Linked DNA regions of Homo sapiens: region 1 is linked to region 2. Evidence: fine-mapped expression QTL. A gene starts in region 2. The other region holds a variant in brackets. All regions are shown on one strand. Distances are from middle to middle. Region 1 overlaps COL5A2 (collagen type V alpha 2 chain). Region 2 holds the start of WDR75 (WD repeat domain 75).

Region 1 (4,403 bases), 270 kb before region 2:
AATAATGGAAATCATAGTATTTGTTTAGATACAGTGGAGGAGAACATGAGCAGTCTTGCAAGGCAGCTGGATACTCTTGGCACTCTTAGGTAAAAAAAAAAGTCACACAGAAGTAAGGTCAGTATAATGTGTTAAGTGTGATGCAACAGTCAATGGCAGCTTGGAATAAATTGTTAATGTTAATAAATTATATTAATAATTAATAAATAATGTTAATAAATTATAATGTCACTGGAGAGTGACATTATAAAAGTGGGACTTAGCCTAATCTGGTGGGAATGTGTAAAACGGATTCATGGAAAGAAAGCATTCTCAGTATGGTATTGTTCCTGCATGGCAGAGGTGTACTGACTGTTGTGAGATGGCCAGAGGAGCACTTAGCTCAACTAATGAGAGAATGTCAGTTCTGGGTGGAATCTGGACAGTAGAGAATGAAAGGGGATAGAGAGAGAGTGAGAGAGAGAGTTTGTGTGTGTCTGTGTGTGTTGGGGGTGGCAGCCTCAAGCAATTCCTTATTTTGAGGCTGAGAATGACAGTTGATGCGACTAAAACTCAGAAATGGGCTAGATCAGCAGGATCTTGTATGTCACACTAAGAAGCTTGAACCTTATTCTTTCTACAAGTTACAGGACCCAATGAAAGTTGTTAAGGAAGGTAAATACAAAATTAGATAGTTTTATATCACACTAGCAACAGAAGGCACCAATATATGTGTTTGTTGGAAAGCAGATACATGAGAGGCAAGGAGATGAATTTAGATGCTATCACAGTAACTGAGGGATAGATGATGAGGGCCTAAACTGAGGCATTTGTAGTAGGGATGGAGAAGAGGTACACTTGAGAAACATTTAGCAGGTAAAATGGTAGATCTTAGTGAACGATTGGAATTGTGCTGATTGAATGACTGACTGAATGACCGGGTAGCATCATGTTGCCATTAACTGGCATAAGGGGGACTACATAAGCAAAATGACCAAGTCTTGAAGGGAAGCCAATAAATTAAGTTTTGGATACACTGAATTTCATGTGGTTCTAGGCTGCCTTTGGGACAGCTGAATATATTTATTTATCTAAAGTTCATGTGAAAGATTGGGGTTGAAGAGATGTTATAATTATCAGCATTCAGCTGTTAAACAAAACCCTTAATTCTAGGTGGCCTAGGAAGAGAATATCCAGAGAGAACCAATGAACTAAATCTTGTAAGAAAAGCAAAATGCTACAGGAAAAGAGAAGAAGGAGCCCATGGATGAAGCTGAGAGGGAAAGGTCAGGGAGGTGGAGGAAGAACCTTCAGAGAGTAGCATTTTAGGAAAGCTGGAGTGGTCAATGGTCTCCAATAAAGGAGAAAGGCCTGATAAGATAAGATGAAAAGGGACCCTTGGAATATCACACATTTTAATCCTCACCATGCTAGACCAGCTTAAGTGGAAAGAGAGGCCAAGTGAGGGCATAGGAGGCAGAGACAGAAAACTGCACTGCTCCTTTTAAAGCAGCTGGGCTAAGAATAAAGACTGGGTGGGAGCTAGACACAGGCTGTGGGAGAGAGCTGAACTTGTTTACAAGCTAAAGGGAAAGAGCAGATAGAAAGGAAGTGGCTGAAGTTATAGAAAAGAGAGCATGACTGATGGAACAAGTTCCTCAGGGAGATGGAGAACAAATAAAACACAAAAGAACAAGTCCAGGAGGTGCTTCAAAACAATTCAAAGATTTGGTGAAAGCAATTTAAAAATACACCACTAGGGTTTATATCTGTGGTCAGTGAAGTAGATTGTAATGTCACTTTCCGTGTCTCATTTAAGTACTCTAAAATTACTTTTAAGTAAATTTCTTAAATGGTCCTCCTAAGAATCCCATCAGATGACAAAGGTGCATACTATTTCCTCAATATTTCAGATGAGGACACAAATTCCCAGTGAGGTTAAGGACCCTCTGCAGGTAGCAAAACTGCTAAATAGAACGAGGACCAGAACCCAGCTGTTCTCTCACATGATGGCTGGACCAAGCTTTATTATACTTGTTATACTACATAGACTACAACGAGGCTATGATGCTTACGTTGCAAGTAGTGTTTCCACCAATAATATAGTTTGCTGTCATCTTAAAGCTGAATTCACAATTCTGATTGGGCATCTCAAATAAAAGGTAAAAAGGGGTACAAAACTGTGAGACTGTCTTTCCTCCTTCTTAATCCTAAACTTAAAAAAAAAAAGCATGTAAACATTTTTGAGTTTGAACATAACACCAGAAGGCTATAGGAACAAAGTTTGATTAATTAATTAATATTAATTAATATTGTTAACATTTTTCCTCTT[C/CTT]TTTTTTTTTTTTTTTTTTTTGAGACGGAGTCTCGTTTTGTTGCCTAGGCTGGAGTGCAGTGGCATGATCTCTGCTCACTGCAGCCTCCCCCTCCCAGGTTCAAGCGATTCTCCTGCCTCAGCCTCCCGAGTAGCTTGAATTACAAGTGCCCACCACCATACCCAGATAAATTTTTTTGTATTTTTAGTAGAGACAGGGTTTCACCATGATGGCCAGGCTGGTCTCAAAATCCTGACCTCAGGTGATCCGCCCACCTCAGCCTCCCAAACTGCTGAGATTACAGGAGTGAGCCACACACCCAGCCTCTATCTTCTCTGTAGAAGGCAAGATTTAGATAGGAATAATCTTGCTTTATTGTAATTTCCCTTATACATTGTTTCTTAGTGAATATTTTAGTATAAGATGAAGCCACCTTGATTTATTTGAAGGGTTTAGTTTTTAAAACATTGATAAAATGAAATAAAAACCTTAAGGTTGCCAATATGGTCACACCTTTAAAGCAAAATTTTCCATAGGATAGAGTACTTCCCATGCAAATGCCAAGAGTAAATAGTCTTTTAAATATTGAATATCACAGCTCATTCATCTTACGTAAAATTTAGATAAATATATATGAACTTTATATGGAGATAAATTTAAGAAAACTAGATTATCAGTATCTTCCTGATAATTTCATTCAGACTCCAAAAGCCTACTCAAGCTGTGACTTTTAGATATAAGAAAAGTTCAAAGACTTCATATTTATCAGTAAGTTGATACTGTCTCGTGCTACATTTTTAGTGAAAATTATAGTTTCATGGATATAAATAATAAAAAATATTAAATCAAGGAATATCTTTATATAATTCCAAGATTTGTCTTATATAAACTTGTGTAACTTGCCCAAATTTATACAATAGATCAATTAATAATCAACACTTCCAGTCTTTTCCCCCACCCTTACTATATCTCTAATGTATAAATCTAAGCTTTTCAATGTTGTGATCTCAGAGAAGAAAATCCGATTAAAGATCAGTTGATCCATGTCCATACATTTTAAGAATGCCATGTAAGGCCAGGTGATGATGCATTAATCATTCTTCAAACCAGAGAAAACTGTATGATTTTTAAAAACTACATTCTGTGGCCATAGATTAACACGATTCCAATCTTCTAATTTCCAGCTTCTTAAAACAAAGCTTCCTCTTTCTGCTTTTGCCTCACATCCTGCATTAGGTACCTGTCTAGAATGATGAACACAATGAATTTCAGGCCTGTAGCGATAGTGCTCAAAGTGTGAAGAGCAGAAAGTAAGAGAGAGGAAATATTGAAAATGAAAAACATGCATTCACCTGGAAACACATGCAAATGGCATGTGTCTTCTGCATAGTAGAATGATTCGCCTAATCCACCATGAGGGGTATTTGGGCCTTGAGTTATTTTTCCAGAAGTGATGGTGACTTTGCAATGGTTTACCTACAAACTTCAACTAAGCAGCCTTATAAGTAAAATGAATAACTAGAATAGCAAGTTATTACCAAAATCTTAATGTGTAGCCTCGGAACATAAAAGCCAACAGGTCCACAACAAGATTCAGAGTGTCAGTCAAAGATTTAATACAGTGGTTCACCAATGTAAATCAGAGTCAACTGGAGAGCTCTAAAAACATACAGATGCCCAGACCCCATCCAAACTTCCTAGATATTTGGAAAGTAGAGGGGTCTAGAATCTATATTAGTCACAAGATCTTAGGTGATTCTTTATACCATTTTTTATCAACACTGATCTGTGGCTTGCTTACCAATGACCCTACGAGTCATGGTCCAAGTATACATTGTGTTAGTCAATATTAAAAATTCACTAAATCTATGAATCTACCAATGTACATATGTAGAAAGAGATATACTCTTCAAACTAAAGCTTCAGTTTAGTTTGAATAGAAGTTATAGGTGTCAAAATTTATCTAAAGACAAGAAGCAAAGAAAATGTAGCCTAATATTTATGTGCCATTCAGTCTTCTTGGCTTCACAGTCTACTCAGTAATGAACAATAACCAAAGTGGATCTAGTCACACAACTATATTTTGTCCATTGAAACCGTAAGATCTAGGCC
Region 2 (4,403 bases):
ACTCTCAACCTTTTCAGGTTATTTCAAATGTTACCTTCTCAGTAAGGCTTTCCCTGAAAACCCATAATAAAGGTGATCAAACCCTTATAATCACTTTCTTTTCTACTTTGAGTTTCCCCTTGGCACATAAATACATCAAAAGTATAATAAGTTTTTGTTTCTTCCCATGATAAGGTAAGGTCCAGTAACATACAGATTTTGTTAACTATTTTTCTCACTCCAGTATTCCCAGAGCCTGAAAGAATGTCTGGCATATACTAGGCACTTAGTAAATATTTCCTGGATGGAAGATGCCAAATAAGTGTTTCTGGAAAATCCTTTTCCTTCTGTATATAGGCTATGCTCTTTCTTGCTATTCCCTTATTTCTTCTAACTGAAAGGAACATGAACTGTGAGCATAAGGACAAAACCAATATGGTTAAGGACAATAACACAAAGAACAAAGTAGAGAAAGCACAGGTCCCTGGTGGCATGAATGATCCACTGCACTAGCCCTATTCTGCCTACCTCAGCCTTCTTGTTACATGATAAAGACAACGCACTATTAATTAAACAGCTGTAGGTGGGATTGGTTCCTTAAAAATTATGTAAAAAGAAATCAAAATACAAATGACTTATCTTTCTGGGCACTTCAGTAAATTAAAACTCTGTGTAAAATAATCCTCCTATACATTTATCAATCCAGCTAGTTTTTGTCCATATCAGGATTTCTGATTCTTTTCTGAAAAATCTAAAGTTACCATACAGTAACATACAACTAAAGTCACACTAATTTGAGTGAAAATATTTATTTTGTTTCTTGGCTCAGGCCCTAAGGAAAAGCCTGTATCAGGTTACAAAGTACCCAACAAAGTCTTTAAAAGATTTATTGTGCATACATCAAGAGACTAAACAAAAAGAGGTTAAGGCTGCAGAATCAAAAGTGATATTTTACACTCCATCCACTGTGACAAAGGGTATCACAGTCATGAAAGAGAAAGCTGGTTACAGCTTGAGATAAACCAAAATTATTAAATATCTCCCTTTCTAGTTCTGGCTCCCCAAATAATAAAGTTTTGAGCACTTTAATAAGCTAGACTCCTCAGTAAAAAGTAAATTTATCCCTGATTTTTACAGTGGTGCTGTCCCAGGATATGTCTTGACCTTTGTGAATATTGTATTTCTCCACCATAAATAAACTTATAGGTATAATCATGTGTGGCTTAATGATGGGGATATGTTCTAAGAAATGCATTTTAGGTGATTTCATCATTGTGTGAATATCACAGAGTGTACCTACACAAACCTAGATGGTACAGCCTACTACACACCTAGGCTGTACGTTATAGCTGATTGCTCCTAGGCTACAAATCTGAACAACATGTTACTGTACTCAATATTGCAGGCAATTGTAACAGAATAGTATTTGTGTATTTAAACACATAAAAGGTACAGTAAAAACACAGTATTATAATCTTACGGAATCACCATGTTATATGCATTGATTGAAAGATCCTTATGTGACATGTGACTATATTTGAGACCTTGGTAATTTTGTGGTAAATCCACAAATCAAGAAGCGAAATCAAAATAGGCAACATAATATACAGGGTCCAAGAATATGATACGTGTAAGTTTACAAAGGAAAACTGGAGATAAACTGGCAAAAATAAACATGTTGAGATTTTAGGGGTTCCTAACCCACAGATTCTATTCACTAATGGGAAAAGGTAAAACTCAGGAAACCAGAGACCAGCGCCCTGAAACCTGGCGGGACTGGCCGAATGTCAGATTAGCCCGAGCAGCTACACTGAACGCTGCGGAAGATGCACCAGAATCCCGGAGTAGGAGCCAGATTTCCAAAGGAAGAAAGCTAGGCCCTAGGACTGTGGAGATTCTGTAGTAACCTAAGCGATGTTCACAAGAACAGAAGAACGGCTAATGAGAGGAACAAAAAGCTGTACAAGGAAGAGAAAGCTACCTTTCCACCCAATAACTCAACGCTGCGACCGAGAAAACCAGGGACGCGAGAGGCTCGCGTCATCCTGCAGCGCCGACACCACAGACACTAGAAAGCGACGCCTCCGGTGGGACGACTGGAGGTCACGTGGTACACTATACGCCACCTTTCCCTTCTGGCGGAAAAAGCCATAGAGTCAGGTTGACAAGGCCTGAGAGAAATATGTCTGTATTAAATAATTGTGTATAGGTATATAATAAAAACTGATTGTCTCTAAATCTCTGTTTTGCTTTCACCTTTTCTTACAAGTGTCTTAGTTTGACATTGCCCACACAAAAGGTGCCTGCACGGAAGCGGAGTCCTACCACCGAGTCTCAGGCCTAGAAGGGCCCGGGGGTGGGTTCTGTGGGCTGGGAACAGCCTTATTACCCGGCTCAACGAAGGAAGTTCAGGGCGGGACCAGAGATTGGCCATTCCGCTACTGCGCAAAGATGGTGGAGGAGGAGAACATCCGCGTGGTTCGTTGTGGCGGCAGCGAGTTGAACTTTAGGAGAGCTGTGTTCTCTGCAGATTCTAAGTATGAGGGGCACCGCGCTTTGTCGGCTGAGGGGCGGGGCGTGAGTTTCTCGAGGGTCGGGGAGAAGGAATTGTCAGTCGCGTTCGGACTCGCCCGCCTGGCGGATATCGGCTTTGGGTAGAGCACGCGCCTGTGGGGGATCCCCAGGGTACCTGGGAGGTCCCGTTACCACTGCAGATTGGGTTGCGTCCCCCGATTCCTGGACAGTTTACCTGCAGGTAGATAAAGGCCCTGGAGCCGGTCTCCGTGTCGAGGATCTGGAAGGTGTTCGGGCGGCTGGAAAATGGTCCAGGGGTGGATGTGTATGCCACTACCTTTGCAGTACCTACTCTTTCGTACAGAATCATGTTTTGGAGTGACTAAAACCTAAAACTATTCCGCTTTTTCTACCCACTCCTCACTCCTGAAGCATAGTGCATGAAGCATAGTGCAGTCTTTTCGGAACTTTACATGAAAACAGATGTTAGATTCTTTATGAGATAAAAATACGCTAAGACTTGGTCTCTTTTCTCAGTGTAGCTGGAAACCAAACCACTCCCTGGCTTCAAAATCCACTTCTTACATTATGAAACCTTTGTAAGTTTCTTAATCTTTGCCTCAGTTGCCATCATCTGTAAAGGGGGACAATATTTAGTTCATCTCACGTGGTTATTGGGAGGATTAAATGCCTCAATATGTTAAAACTACAGACAACAATGCCCGGCACATAATGGCTCAATGTATGTAGCTGTAATCATTATTACTGTATTGTCAGGTTTTCAAATAACTTTAGGTAGGGTGGCACTTAATAAAATCAAAAAACCCTTTCTGCCTTAGAAGAGTAGAGATAGTATTTTATGAAAGTTTGTAGCCTCCACAATATTCTTTTTTTTTTTTTTTTTTTTTTTTTTGATGCAGAATCTCACTCTGTCACCCAGGCTGGAGTGCAGTGGCTCAATCTAGGCTCATTGCAACCTCCGCCTCCCTGGTTCAAGCAATTCTGGTGCCTCGGCCTCCTGAGTAGCAAGTATTATAAGCGCGGGCCACCACGCCCGCTAATTTTTGTATTTTTAGTAGAGAGAGGGTTTCGCCATGTTGGCCAGGCTGCCCTGGAACTCCTGGCCTCAAGTGATCTGCCCACCTGAACCTCCCAAAGTGCAGCGATTACAGTGAGCAACTGTGCCCGGCCCACCCCCACAATATTCTGCATATGAGTGTACGACAGGTAGTTGTTGAAGGTAATGCAAGCATGACTGAAAGAGCTTTTATAAATTGCCTTAGAAGCCAAAAAAAAATGAGTCCTGTGGCTTTGTTGACATTGATCTTATGAATCAAAGGAAGAAACAGGCTTTAAGAGGCTGTCACACTGTGACGCTTCGGACTCATATCCATGTAACCAGTACTGTTCTTATACCTTATTCATTATAATGAGGTCCATTGTGTGTTTGATTTGCTAAGCCCAACAATTCATTTTTTAAGTACTTGTCAACTATATATTATGTATAACATGCTGCAGTGACAAAAACTAAGATAATTTTAATATTGATCCTGCCTTCGAGGAGCTTACAGTCTAGTGAGGAAAAGGAATACTCAGTAACAGATTTTTCTTACTGTGGTCCTGTAGGAAGGAGCTCATAAGAAGAGATTACTTCCCAAACTAAGAAGGACGGAGAAGATTGCTGAGCAAATGACATTTGTGCTAGGCCTAGATGATATTTTAAGTGGGGAATATGGACAGAAGACATTTCAGGTGGGGAGGACAGTGTAAGCAAGAAAGACAGAAGTGATTTCTGTTGAACAGGCTGGTACAGTTAGCTAGTAAGAATGGTATATATTAAGGGAGGTAGTGGGAAATGAGGTTGGAAAGGACACGTGCAGCCAGTTGTTGGTTGTTGTTTGGACCAAAGA

The links. PIP is the estimated chance that this variant, and not a neighbour inherited with it, causes the effect.
Region 1: its variant is fine-mapped to the expression of WDR75 in whole blood (INTERVAL, PIP above 0.99).

What each region holds. Positions count from the first base shown.
Region 1 is chr2:189,170,657-189,175,059 of GRCh38, forward strand. The region is part of intron 1 of COL5A2 (collagen type V alpha 2 chain); the gene reads right to left. Among named protein-coding and RNA genes, the nearest start is that of COL5A2, 6.9 kb to the right of the region's middle. The variant C/CTT (reference allele first, on the strand shown) is at 2,312.
Region 2 is chr2:189,439,063-189,443,465 of GRCh38, forward strand. WDR75 (WD repeat domain 75) reads left to right here and starts at 2,412. Exons shown (of 21, transcript NM_032168.3): 1 at 2,412-2,516. The coding sequence starts at 2,431. It also overlaps a transcript of COL5A2 not described here. RefSeq lists enhancers at 1,278-1,976, 1,748-1,907, 1,928-2,147, 2,408-2,537, 2,558-2,787 and 1 more.